2 separate regions of the Homo sapiens genome follow, and region 2 is linked to region 1. A link means that fine-mapping ties the variant in region 1 to the plasma level of a protein whose gene starts in the linked region. Region 1 holds a variant in brackets. A gene starts in the other region. All regions are shown on their reverse strands.

Region 1 (5,381 bases):
CAGGTGGTTTAACACCTGAATTCTATCTAACCTTTGAAAAACAGATAATTTCTGATGTTAAAAATATTCCAAACCACACTAAAAATGGGAAAAAAATCAATTTATCTCATGAAGTTTATATAAGGTTAGTATTAAAAGTTAATAATGACAGCACAAAAAGATAGACTAGAGACCAGTCTTACAGATGAATATAAATACAGAAATTATCAATAAAATATTAATGAATAGAAACCAATGTAACCAAAAAAGTTACAATGACTAAGGCGGCATTACTTGAGGAATGGAAAGTTGTTTCAATATGAGGAAATCTATTAAAGTCGTCCACTATGCCAAAATATTAAAAGATAACCATAGGATTATATAAGTAGATGCTGAAAACTCATTTAATAAAATTTGAGATATTCCCAATAAAGACATAAAGAAAGAAAAAGAAGAAAGAGAAAGAGGAAGAGAAACATTTTTCTTAACTGGGAAACACTAAAGACATTGGAATTAATCTTTAAAGCCACAGTGATCTAATTTTTGTGACACACACACACACACATACACACACTGCCAGTGGAGTAGGAATGGACTAATAAACCAATGGAGCGGAATAGGGAATCCAGAAACAGATCCTACCATGAGAATTTAAAAATATGACAAAGATGATACTTTAGTAGGATGTACTTATTGTCCCCTTCTCCTCCAATAGAGACATCCCTTGCCTCGCTCATCTCTGAGTCCTGGACCAAGCATCTCTTTGCAGGGCAGTGGGGGTACAGGCAAGGGCTCTCGTGTGTCTCAATCACCTTTCACCTGTTCTCCCCAGTTCTCTCTTGAACCATCGGCAAGAGAATTCAGGTCTCAGCTCTTGTTGACTTTCTCAGCTCTCCCTGGCACTTAGACTGGCACAACTGTCTATCCATTTGGAAAATAAATAAGTTGAGCCCTTATGCTCTGTACAAAAATAAATTTCATACTTGGTTGAAAACTTTTATGTAAAAAATAACAATAATTATAAAAGCCATAGAAGAGAGTTCTTAGAGACTACATATAGAATCGAGGTGTTGGGTAGACCTTCTTAAGAAAAAGGACATTAATACAAAAAAGAAATTTTTGAAATACAAAAATTTGTAACTTTTATATGGTAAAAAGTATTATAATTGAAACCCATAAACAAAATAACAGATTTGGAAGGAAGTATTTGTGATACAAATAGCACATAAAGTATTAACATCTATAAAAGAAATATTCTTAAGAAGAAAGGCAACCCAAAATTAACTGGACAAGCAAATAAATAGGCAAAAAACAGAAAATGAACTAAATTCTGGCAAGTATATAAAATGATGTTAGAACTCCTTCATGGTCAAGAAATTGAAAACCAAAATAAACAATTAGATACCACTTCACACTCACCAGACTAACAAAATGAAAGCAAGTGTAATGGCTGGTGCAGATGTGGGAAAGAGGTGCACTCATGCATTGCTGGTGGAAGTGTGAATTGCCATAGCCTTTTTAGAAATCAATTTGGCAATATCTGTTTCAAGTAAAACTACCCAAAACTTCAAATTTGGAAATCTATCCTCTAGAGAGAAAAATTCTGGTCAACTGAGACAAATATAACAATATTTATTGCTGCATTGTTGGTAGTGGTAAAAGAAAAACAAACAAAAAATGACCACCTATCATGGAGGGATGGGGAAGAATTTATGATATACCCCTACGGTGAAATATCAGATGACCTCTGAAAATAGCAATCTAATTGATTTGGAGGGACTTTATGAGGTCAGTTGGAGAATTTCTGTGAGATATTGTGAGCAAGAAAAGATGTCTATACTGTACAACCCATTTCTGATGGAGTGGACTATATGTATGGAGAAAAATGTAGAAGGATCTATCCCAGGTCATTAATCAAGGTTGTGGGGAAGATGGGTGGGGTAATATGGGTAAGGAGGAGGAGAGAGTGAGAAAGAGGTAAACAAAAAGAAAAAGAAGAGAGCATGGACTCTGGATTTGCACCGTGTGGCAGCCTCTCTGAGGTTTTTCTTCATCTATGAAATGGAGATAACAGTAGGAGTCTCGGCAGAGAGCTGTGATGATTCGTACCTGGCACTCAATAGTTAAACTTGTTATCGTCATCATCAGGTCATGGTGGTTATTCCAGAGTCCAGGGGCACCTGACTGTGCCACTCCCATCCGTGGCCAGTCCCAGGCCAGAAATCTCAGGCCTGAGGGGCTCCACCCACCCCTAAGCTGGGTGCCCCTCCTGGAAAGCCCAGCTGCAGAGGGGTTCATGTACTCTCCTCCTTTCTTACATCCCCAAACACAAGCCCACAGGTCCTTGCCCTTTAAGGCTATTATTGCTCCTGATTAGAAGGAAGTTGGCAGGAGGTAAGGGGCAGGGAAAAAGCTGGGGCCATGACCAAGGCTCTAAAATCTCATCAATTTTGCCT[C/A]ATCTCAGCCCCCTAGTCTCCAGTTCTGGATACATTTTTCTAGAGGGTACCTGGAAGCCCCTCTGAACTCCTAAGGCAAGCCTCCCTCCGCAGTCTCCCCTGGGTCTGACTGACCTCTCCTTCCTGTACTAGAATCTATGCAGATGCCTGTCTGCCTCCACCTGAGTGCTATGCTGGATGGACAGCCAGAGGAGTCCTGTGGCTGCCTCTGTGTCCCTTCTGAGATAAAGGGCCTGAACCAGGGCTTTCCTTCCTAAGAGACCCTGGGTTGGGGCTGTTTTCAGTGAAGTCAGCCTGTAGCTCTGGCCACAGTGGATTGAAAGGGACAACGGGTACACAAGCAGAGGGCAATGGCCCCTGGGCCAGAGGCAAGCAGGGCCCTTTTCTTGTTTCAGAGTTTCCTCCTGATCGCGGTAGGAAAACTCCCACATAGACCAATACAGAAAACGCTCTTAATTTAGTGAAAGGGTTTCGTTTTTCTCCAACCACTGCCTTCAACCTTTTGAATCTACCTCTCCAATCTCTTAACAACATCTTGGGCAGAAACTAGAGCCATCTGGTCACTTTGGGTTATAATTTTTGTTTAATCCAGTCTTAGGGCGTCTAGTTTAAAGCATTCATCTCATATCCTTCCCCTTCCCTAGCTCAGACCTGCCCCCGGCCCAGGACACCTGCAGGCAGAAGGGTATGTGGCCATTCTTCCACTCCTCCTCCACCTTCTCCCCACCCTCCTTTCCCATTGAGTCAGGGCTGGGAGAAACACTGGGGGAAGGGGCCAGTGTCTCTTGCCAACTCGTGCTGCTGTGCACCTTCCTGGAGTCAGCACCCTCTGAGAGGCAGGCATGTGACCAAGTTTGCTCCCTTTCCTCTCCTGCCTGCAGTGACACACCCCACAATCTCTTGGGTGAGGTGTTGGGAAGGTAGCACCAGCCAAGCTGCCTTTTCAGGATCCTCTTGACCCACGGGACGTCCACTTCTTTCCCACACCAAACAGGGGAGTAGGAGCTGTACCTCTTCTACCTCCTCCCTGCCTACCATCTCCCTCCACTCCCCGCCCCCCTTCTCCTGTCAACATAGATGGCTCTGGTGCCCCAGTGTCCTAGTAGGAATCCACTCAGGGCATGAGACAGCAGTCACCCATTTCCTAGGGCCCCACTGTTTTCTTGGAGACCCGTTCATTTGACTGGGGGAAGAGTATAGAACACTCCTCCTCTCCTCTCCCAAAAGGAAGAGAAGTCACAGTACTCTGCCTCTATGTTAGCAATTCACAGCCCCAAAGAACTTGTATCTCCTGCTATTGCAGACTGGTAGTGCTGGAGTGATGTCCTGAAAGAATGGATCCATCGGTCCCATTTAGGAATATGCAGATATATAGCACCTATAGATTTCAGCCTTGGTTCTTCCAATTCCAAGAAAATGGGTGGAGTCCCATTTAACAAATTATTACCAAAAAAACCAAAATAGGTCCTCTGCCTAATGACATTGAGTTATGGGTTCTCTAGGAATCTGGTGGCTCAGTCTAGTCTCAGAAACCCTGGGATAGAGGGAAGTTGTATCAGTTGGAGAGACATCCCAAGCTACTCCATATTCACATGTACACTCATAATAACCCTGCACCGCAGCTTGTTTGTGCCTGTCTCCTCTTGTGACCTCACAAAGCCTGATCCATCCAGGCTCCCCATCCCTGTGGGTGCCCTGCCCCACACTGATAGCCAAGATCCCTGGGAGGTCGGCCTGGGTGTCAGCGGGTATCTCAGTGCTTCTGCCCTTTGCTCTGGTTAGGGGAACCTTGGAGGCAGCTGTCCTAGATATAAGATATGACCCTCACGTTCTGGACTCTTTCTGCCTGGGTCCTCAGCACACCAGCTGCCGCAGGCACTCGCCTGCCATCCCCAGAGCAGAAGACCACACATAAGATGACATCACCAGCAGGTGCAGACGGGGCCTACCAGGTGTGCAGCCAGCCCTGCCTGGGGAAGGCCTTACCAGATGGGAGGCTTCTCATCTGTCACTGTGGCAGTGCTGATGGCACATCTTCAAATGGTATCTCTCTGAAACTAAGAGATGGCCGTTTAGCTGCAATACACAAACCCAATTTGGGAACCCAAATGACACCACCTGAGTCTCCATGGCAGGAATTATGGCTCTTGAATCAGGCACAATCTGCAGAATAAGTGAAATCGTCAACACAGGAAAATGTGTTTGAAAACATGATGTGATCTATAGTTAAAGCTTGTAAATTCTGCATCCACCTCAGAAATATTCTACTTCCAGAGCAATTTCTTCACTAACTAGCTGTCTCTTAAATGGACTGTATGTCTTTTTCATTACGGCATCTGCCCTGCCTCCGTTGGCAGCAGTTCCCAGCTGCTGGGCCCGTGGATCTCTCACTCTAAAGCCAGCACTACCCCAGGTCCCTGATCAATTCCCCTGCCTCAGCCCCAAACCACTAAAGGCTCCAAAAGAAGCCTTCTCTGACACCCTCAGGATGTGTTGCTCCCGACCATAGCCAGACTGCAGCTATATCTTGGAACCATGAACCCCAGCTCCTTCCAGCAAGCCCCTATTCCAGACACCCTCTTTAGCCTCAGTGTCTGTGCCTATATTGGTCCCTAATGCAAACTCACAGTCCAATAATTTCGAGTGCTGAGGGCTCAGCATACCTTGCTGGCAACATTATCCCCTGCAACCTGCCATCTAACTGCCATGTGGATTTTTGAGCACCACCTACTGGATTCCCACCATTGTGCCACACTGGGATTCATTCATTAGTTCATGCATTCACTCACTTATGCAAGAAGTACTTCTAGAGCACCTACTAAAGCCATACTGTGCCCTAGAGATACTACAAGGTAAACAAAATGACAATTTCTGCCCTCAAAGGCACCGGGCCAGGACAGCCACACAAGGCTCAACATGTGACAAACACGGTGTCCTCAGTTTCTG
Region 2 (5,381 bases), not on the chromosome of region 1:
GCACTGCAGGCCGACCGGAGGCTTCTAGCTCGCGCCGGGTGCGTGGGCCCTCCCTGGCCGCCTGTGCCACCCCGCTGCGCGAGGCGCGGAGCCCGACCACGCCCGCGCGGACGGTCCCGGGGTGAGGAATCTCCAGTGGGGATTGAGGGTAGAGGGCGGCCGCCAGCGAGCTGCCCTCCGCGGATGGCGCCCAGCCTCCCCACGCTGGTGCCCCTCGCAAGGAGAGGTGGCCGGGAAAGGCAACGGACTGAGGAAAGCCGGCTCACTGGCCGCGTCGCCACCGCGTCCCTGAGTGCTCAGAACTTACCGAGCGAGCGCGCCGCCCAGATCTTTTCCCGGAGGCGCCCGCAGCATCTGCGACTCGGGGAGGCAAAGGAGCCGGCACCGCCTCGGACTGGCGCAGCCCAGGAGCGAGAGCACCGCGGGGAGCGCGGGCGGCGCCCCCAGGGCAGGCAGATCCCCACCGAGCAGCTAGCCAACGGGCAACGCTTCTTGCAGGAAGGAGGGAGGGAGGCGAGAGGGAGGAGGGAAGTAAAGCGGGAGGGAGGAGAGGGGAAGAAGGGAGGGAGGAGGGAGGAGGGAGGGAGGAGGGAGGAGGGAGTGAGGAGGGAGGAGGGAGGGAGGAGGGAGGGAGGGATCGCGTCCCCCCTCTCCCTCACTTATCAATCACCCCACAGATCAAATATCCGGGCTGTGCACCCAGGACGGGGATGTAAGAGCCCACAAAGGAGCCGCTGCTCCATTTCTCTGACAAGCGCTGCGGAGCACTGCTCACGCCTCTCGGTCCCTCTTGCCTGGAACTCTGCCCAGCCCTTGCGGCTTCCACCCTGGGCTGCAGCTCGGGCTCGGTCAAGTGAAATAAGAATGGCACACGGTCGGTACCATGTCCAAGGGGAGACTAAGACTACTGGGTGGAAGTTAACGACAAGTGAAAGAGCAGTCAGCCATCCGAGCTGGACACCCTCCGGGACAGCTGCCTCCCCTAACTAGTAAGCGCCCAGTCTTTGGGAGTTCGCAGGCAGATATTTAAGAACCTCCTACGAGGATCGTAAACAAGGACTTTCAACATAAGATAGAGCTGAACTTGAGTTGTGCAAGTGTGTTAACAAAGCAAGCCCTTAGCAGCGTTCCAGTGCCCATTTTGATTCCCTTTATTCTTCACGACGACGTTGCCTGGATCTTCTAGAGCGTGATTTTTGCCATCCTCCCTTCCCTTTTCTCCTTTCTTCTTCCTCTTATTAGTAGTCCAGGTGGTTGTGATTCTATTAAAGGAAGGCGCTCTGTGAAAAGAGTCAGTGTAGTTCAAGAGGGAGGTGCGGTTTTTGCCAAGAGCATTGCGTTTCCCCTCAAGACTTGCTTTCTCTAGGGCCTCTCCTCTACTCTTCCAGAGTATTCGAGATAAAGTTGCAGTTTGATAAATTTATGCCAGGAGTAGGGAGTTCATTTGATGACACTAAGTCATTTTCCCCTCCATCCTGTAGGAGAACGTCATTAATTCAAGTCGTTGCCACCCCCTATCCTTTTCATGCCCGCTAGAGTCTGCAAAACCCCAAATCCTTCTTACTGTCGAAAAGCGTGATGGTGGAGAGCAGACGGGGAGGCGAGGAGAGAGGTGCAAAATTAGACGCAAAATTACCTCTCCAGCTAGTGGATCTGCATTGGAATTTGTCTGTTTCCATATTTCCCATGCCTTTCAACTCGTTCTCACAGCACTGACAACCACCTTTTTCTTGTCCTTCCCGTGGGAATCTTTTGTGCTTCTCCTGTCCTCTCTTCTTGGCTTTCTTTCATAATGGTTTTCTAAGGAGATTATGCTGGGCTTTTTAAAAAGAAAACTACTGGCAATCTTATATTATGAAGATGTACAGAGTTTGCTTTAATAATAGTCGGAAGAATTATAATCGTATCTTCGGAGTTGTAAGGGTCATTACTGTTCCTTTTATTTCATTCTTGAGAAAGCCTTTTTGAAATCTTCCTACCATTCAGATAAGCAACTTCGGAATAACATAGTTCTCACATAAGCACGTGGGCAGTGTATGTACGGTTATATATCCAGAAGCATTGCTCTTCTTTTTACAATATCTGTATTAGTGTAAACATCCAATGTGCTGTTTGCTACAGACTAAAAGCAGTGCACTGAGCACATCATATTATTAACTAAATGAGGTCAGTTAATACTGTTACTTCTGTCTTTACCGTATTTCTGACTGTGTCATCTTTTCATGTCGCTTTTAGTAGATGTTATAAACAACTGCAAAACACAGAGCTAAGAGGCCATTCCAATACAGAAATAATGAGACAGTCATGCTGAAAAACTCAGACAGTTTACTAAGAAGGGTGATGTGTCTGTAGCCAAAGGGAACATACAAAATAAGCAAAAACTTCTATACAGAGTAGAGAAGGAACATGGCATTAATGATGAAAAGTGATACTTTATTTAGATCCAGTAGTAACATGTAATAGATGGCATGCATCAATTTTAATTAGCCTTGTAAGCAAGTCTAACCTGTTCACCAGCCTTCGAAAAGCATTTAGCAGCCTGCCTTTCCACATGGGACCACACTGATAGTAAGACAAAATTAAAAAGAGCAGACTTTTCTTTTTGTCAGCATAAAATTTTCAAGTAGGTGGATAGCTGTGCTTTGAATGCACAGACACGAAAATTGATGAGCAATATAAAACTTTCTGAGAGGGTTTTGCATAGACAGTTATAATGGAGGAGAGTTTGAAGTCTGTGAAAAATTTAAATATGCCAATTTATTTGAAAGCTGCTTTATGCTGAATTTTCTAAAAGCTTCTGTGTTAGAGGAAAATTTCCAAATAGAATTGAATACTAGAGACACCATATTAATGTACTTCTGTTCATTAATAAAAATCACATTATTCTTCTTTATACTAGCACTGTAAATGTATCTTTATATCCATGTGCTGTTTTCTTTTTGAAAAACTTTTATTTTAGGTTCAGGTGTACGTGTGCAAGTTTGTTATATAGGTAAATTGCATGTGGTGGGGGTTTGGTTTACTGTAAGCTACTTTCTATTGTGAAGTTCGTGTTACTAAACAACATAGAGATCCCGATTGGAAAACTAGTGGAAAAACAGAGAAATAAAACTAAATCTTGCCTGGGTTTTTATAATTTCATTCTAAGGTTAGAAGAAAACCAGAAATTTCACCTGCGATGAGTGAGATAAAAAGCGCATATGTTTCCAGGATGATGTAAAGGATGTCCTATTACTGTGTAGTACGTAATTTACCTGAGAATGTTGCTTTTTCAACTTCTTCACACCTATCCAGAACTAGAAAGCTTTAAAACATATAAAAGAAGACAAAATGTGCTGCATTTTCAGTGAACATAGTTTCTTTCCAACCAAAGGTTTCAAAGAAGAGTGCCACAGAACAAATTCCTAAATAAAGAAACGCAACAAAGCGGACATGCCCTTAATATTAGTAATTATAGTTTACAGGATATTGTAGACTTTTGTTCCTGATGTTATTGAAAAGGTGGATATTTTTCAATTCAATTCAATTATTTGGATTATTTGGCAGGCATTTTGGCCTGATTGAAATAGTGCTGGGCCAAGACCCAGGGCAGTTTTTCTTTTAATCAAATACATATCCAAGCCCTTGGAGCCCAATGACCTGGGTTCAAATTCCACCCGTGCTACTTTCTCACAATGGGACAAAAACAGCATTACACCAATTTCAGTTCCCCATGTGTAAAACTGGCACCTGCTATGTGGAGTCAGTAAGGATGGGATGTATACAGAACTCTTGAAAATTGAACGGTGGTACATGTATGTGCAAATAAATCTTAAACTAAAAAAATTTTTAACTCACTTCTTAAAATAAATAAGTTATACAAAATATTTTATATCTGTTTTCTATGTTTCTCATGACAATCCTCAACAGGCCAGTATGATTAGCCAGACTTTACAAAAGAGGAAAGTGAGACTCAGAAAATTTAAGTAACTTACCCTTACTCCCATTCTTGGTGAAATGGTTGATTTTAGTCAGAAACCAACATCTTAATTTAAGTTGGATAACAGAATTAGCATTAGAAAAAATATTTATGATTCTAGTTGGAGCCATGTAATGTCAAACATTTAAAATAACTTCAAAAAAATTCCATCTTTCATTTTACAGATGTTTTCAAATAGTTACATATATGTATACATCAGGGCTCAAACTCAACACTGTTGATATATTTGGTCAAATGATTATTTGTTGTGGGGGCTGCCCTATGCAATGTAGAAGGATTAGCAGCGTCACTGGCTTTTGTGTGTGTGTGTAATGTGCATATGTATACTATATATACATACGTGTAATTATATAAATGTAATAAGTAATATAACAATATATAATGAAATATTATTCTATTGTAGTCGATTTTTTAAATGCTTGGCTGTGGCCCACTAAACTGAACTCAGGAGTGACTGTAGATTGCCTCTTACAGTTTGAATAACACTGCCACGCTGGAATGGGCAGGAAAGGAAGGAAAATGGGATAGAAAGGAGAAAAGAGGCAGTAGATCAAGAGGGGAAGTACAGAAATAGAAGGAAAAGACAACTGCATGTCTTACAAAGTTATAGAAAGACTTATGGTGCCCCCATCAATTACACCAAGTGCCACTTATTAATGATACCTGTTCTCTAAGGGCTCTGGCTCTCCCTCTTTTTTGACTGAGTCCAGTGATTTATCAGTAAGAACCACATTTAAGCTTACTAGACTTGGGAGCACATATACATGGCAAAAGCCACAAATTTAACAGATAAGGCTCAGGACAGCATTAGTAGGTATTTCATCTATCCTGACACATTCTATCTTATGAATTTTGCTGCAGCTGGAAGTCATATTTTGGTTTGGAGTTACAACCTAATGTGTTCAGGAGGAAGCCAAATTTATTAGGTTTGACATTGCACTTTATTGGAATGGTATAATGCAGTTGAGCCTCTGTAATAAGTTCTGTTGATTTTATTTATGTATTTATGTTTGGCTAGTATAAATATATGGTAAAGTATGTGCTGTGGTAGAGAGTTTAATGCTGACTCTGCTGGAAAATTCAAAAATGTCTGCATAGAAGATGCCCAGTTCTAAAGAGTTACGGTCAGAGGAGCAGCTACTCAGGATTTGCACTAAGTAGTTCTGATTTTTAAAAATGTCATCATTTGTGAAGAGGACTAGTCTATTAATATGAACAAAATGGCAAGGATGACATACCCCAGATCTACCTGAAGTTGTGATTTGCACAAAATGAAGCAGAGTTTCAAAATTGTAGGTTTAGAAATGAGGCAAGTAAGATCTAGAATGTAAATAAAATCATTTCCAGTAATAACTGGATGCCGCATTCAACCATCATTGCAAATCAATGTGAGGAGAATGGA

Alleles and levels. Alleles are on the strand shown, and positions count from the first base shown. The strength of an association depends on the size of the effect and on how common the allele is.
For the plasma level of the protein whose gene starts at base 505 in region 2, C is the low allele of the variant in region 1 and A is the other (weak association).

What was found. A credible set is the group of variants that fine-mapping cannot tell apart. PIP is the posterior inclusion probability: the model's chance that the variant is causal. The UK Biobank Pharma Proteomics Project read protein levels with antibody pairs (Olink). The fine-mapping took linkage between variants from a reference panel, not from the people measured, so its PIPs are less certain.
Region 2: SLITRK2 starts here. The variant in region 1 is the best candidate, but not a certain one, in a credible set for the plasma level of the SLITRK2 protein (UK Biobank, PIP 0.62).

Annotation. Positions count from the first base shown.
Region 1 is chr11:11,251,596-11,256,976 of GRCh38, reverse strand. All of the region lies in intron 1 of LOC124902631 (a long non-coding RNA gene), which reads left to right. Among named protein-coding and RNA genes, the nearest start is that of CSNK2A3, 99 kb to the left of the region's middle. The variant C/A (reference allele first, on the strand shown) is at 2,436.
Region 2 is chrX:145,812,953-145,818,333 of GRCh38, reverse strand. SLITRK2 (SLIT and NTRK like family member 2) reads right to left here and starts at 505. Exons shown (of 5, transcript NM_032539.5): 1 at 308-505.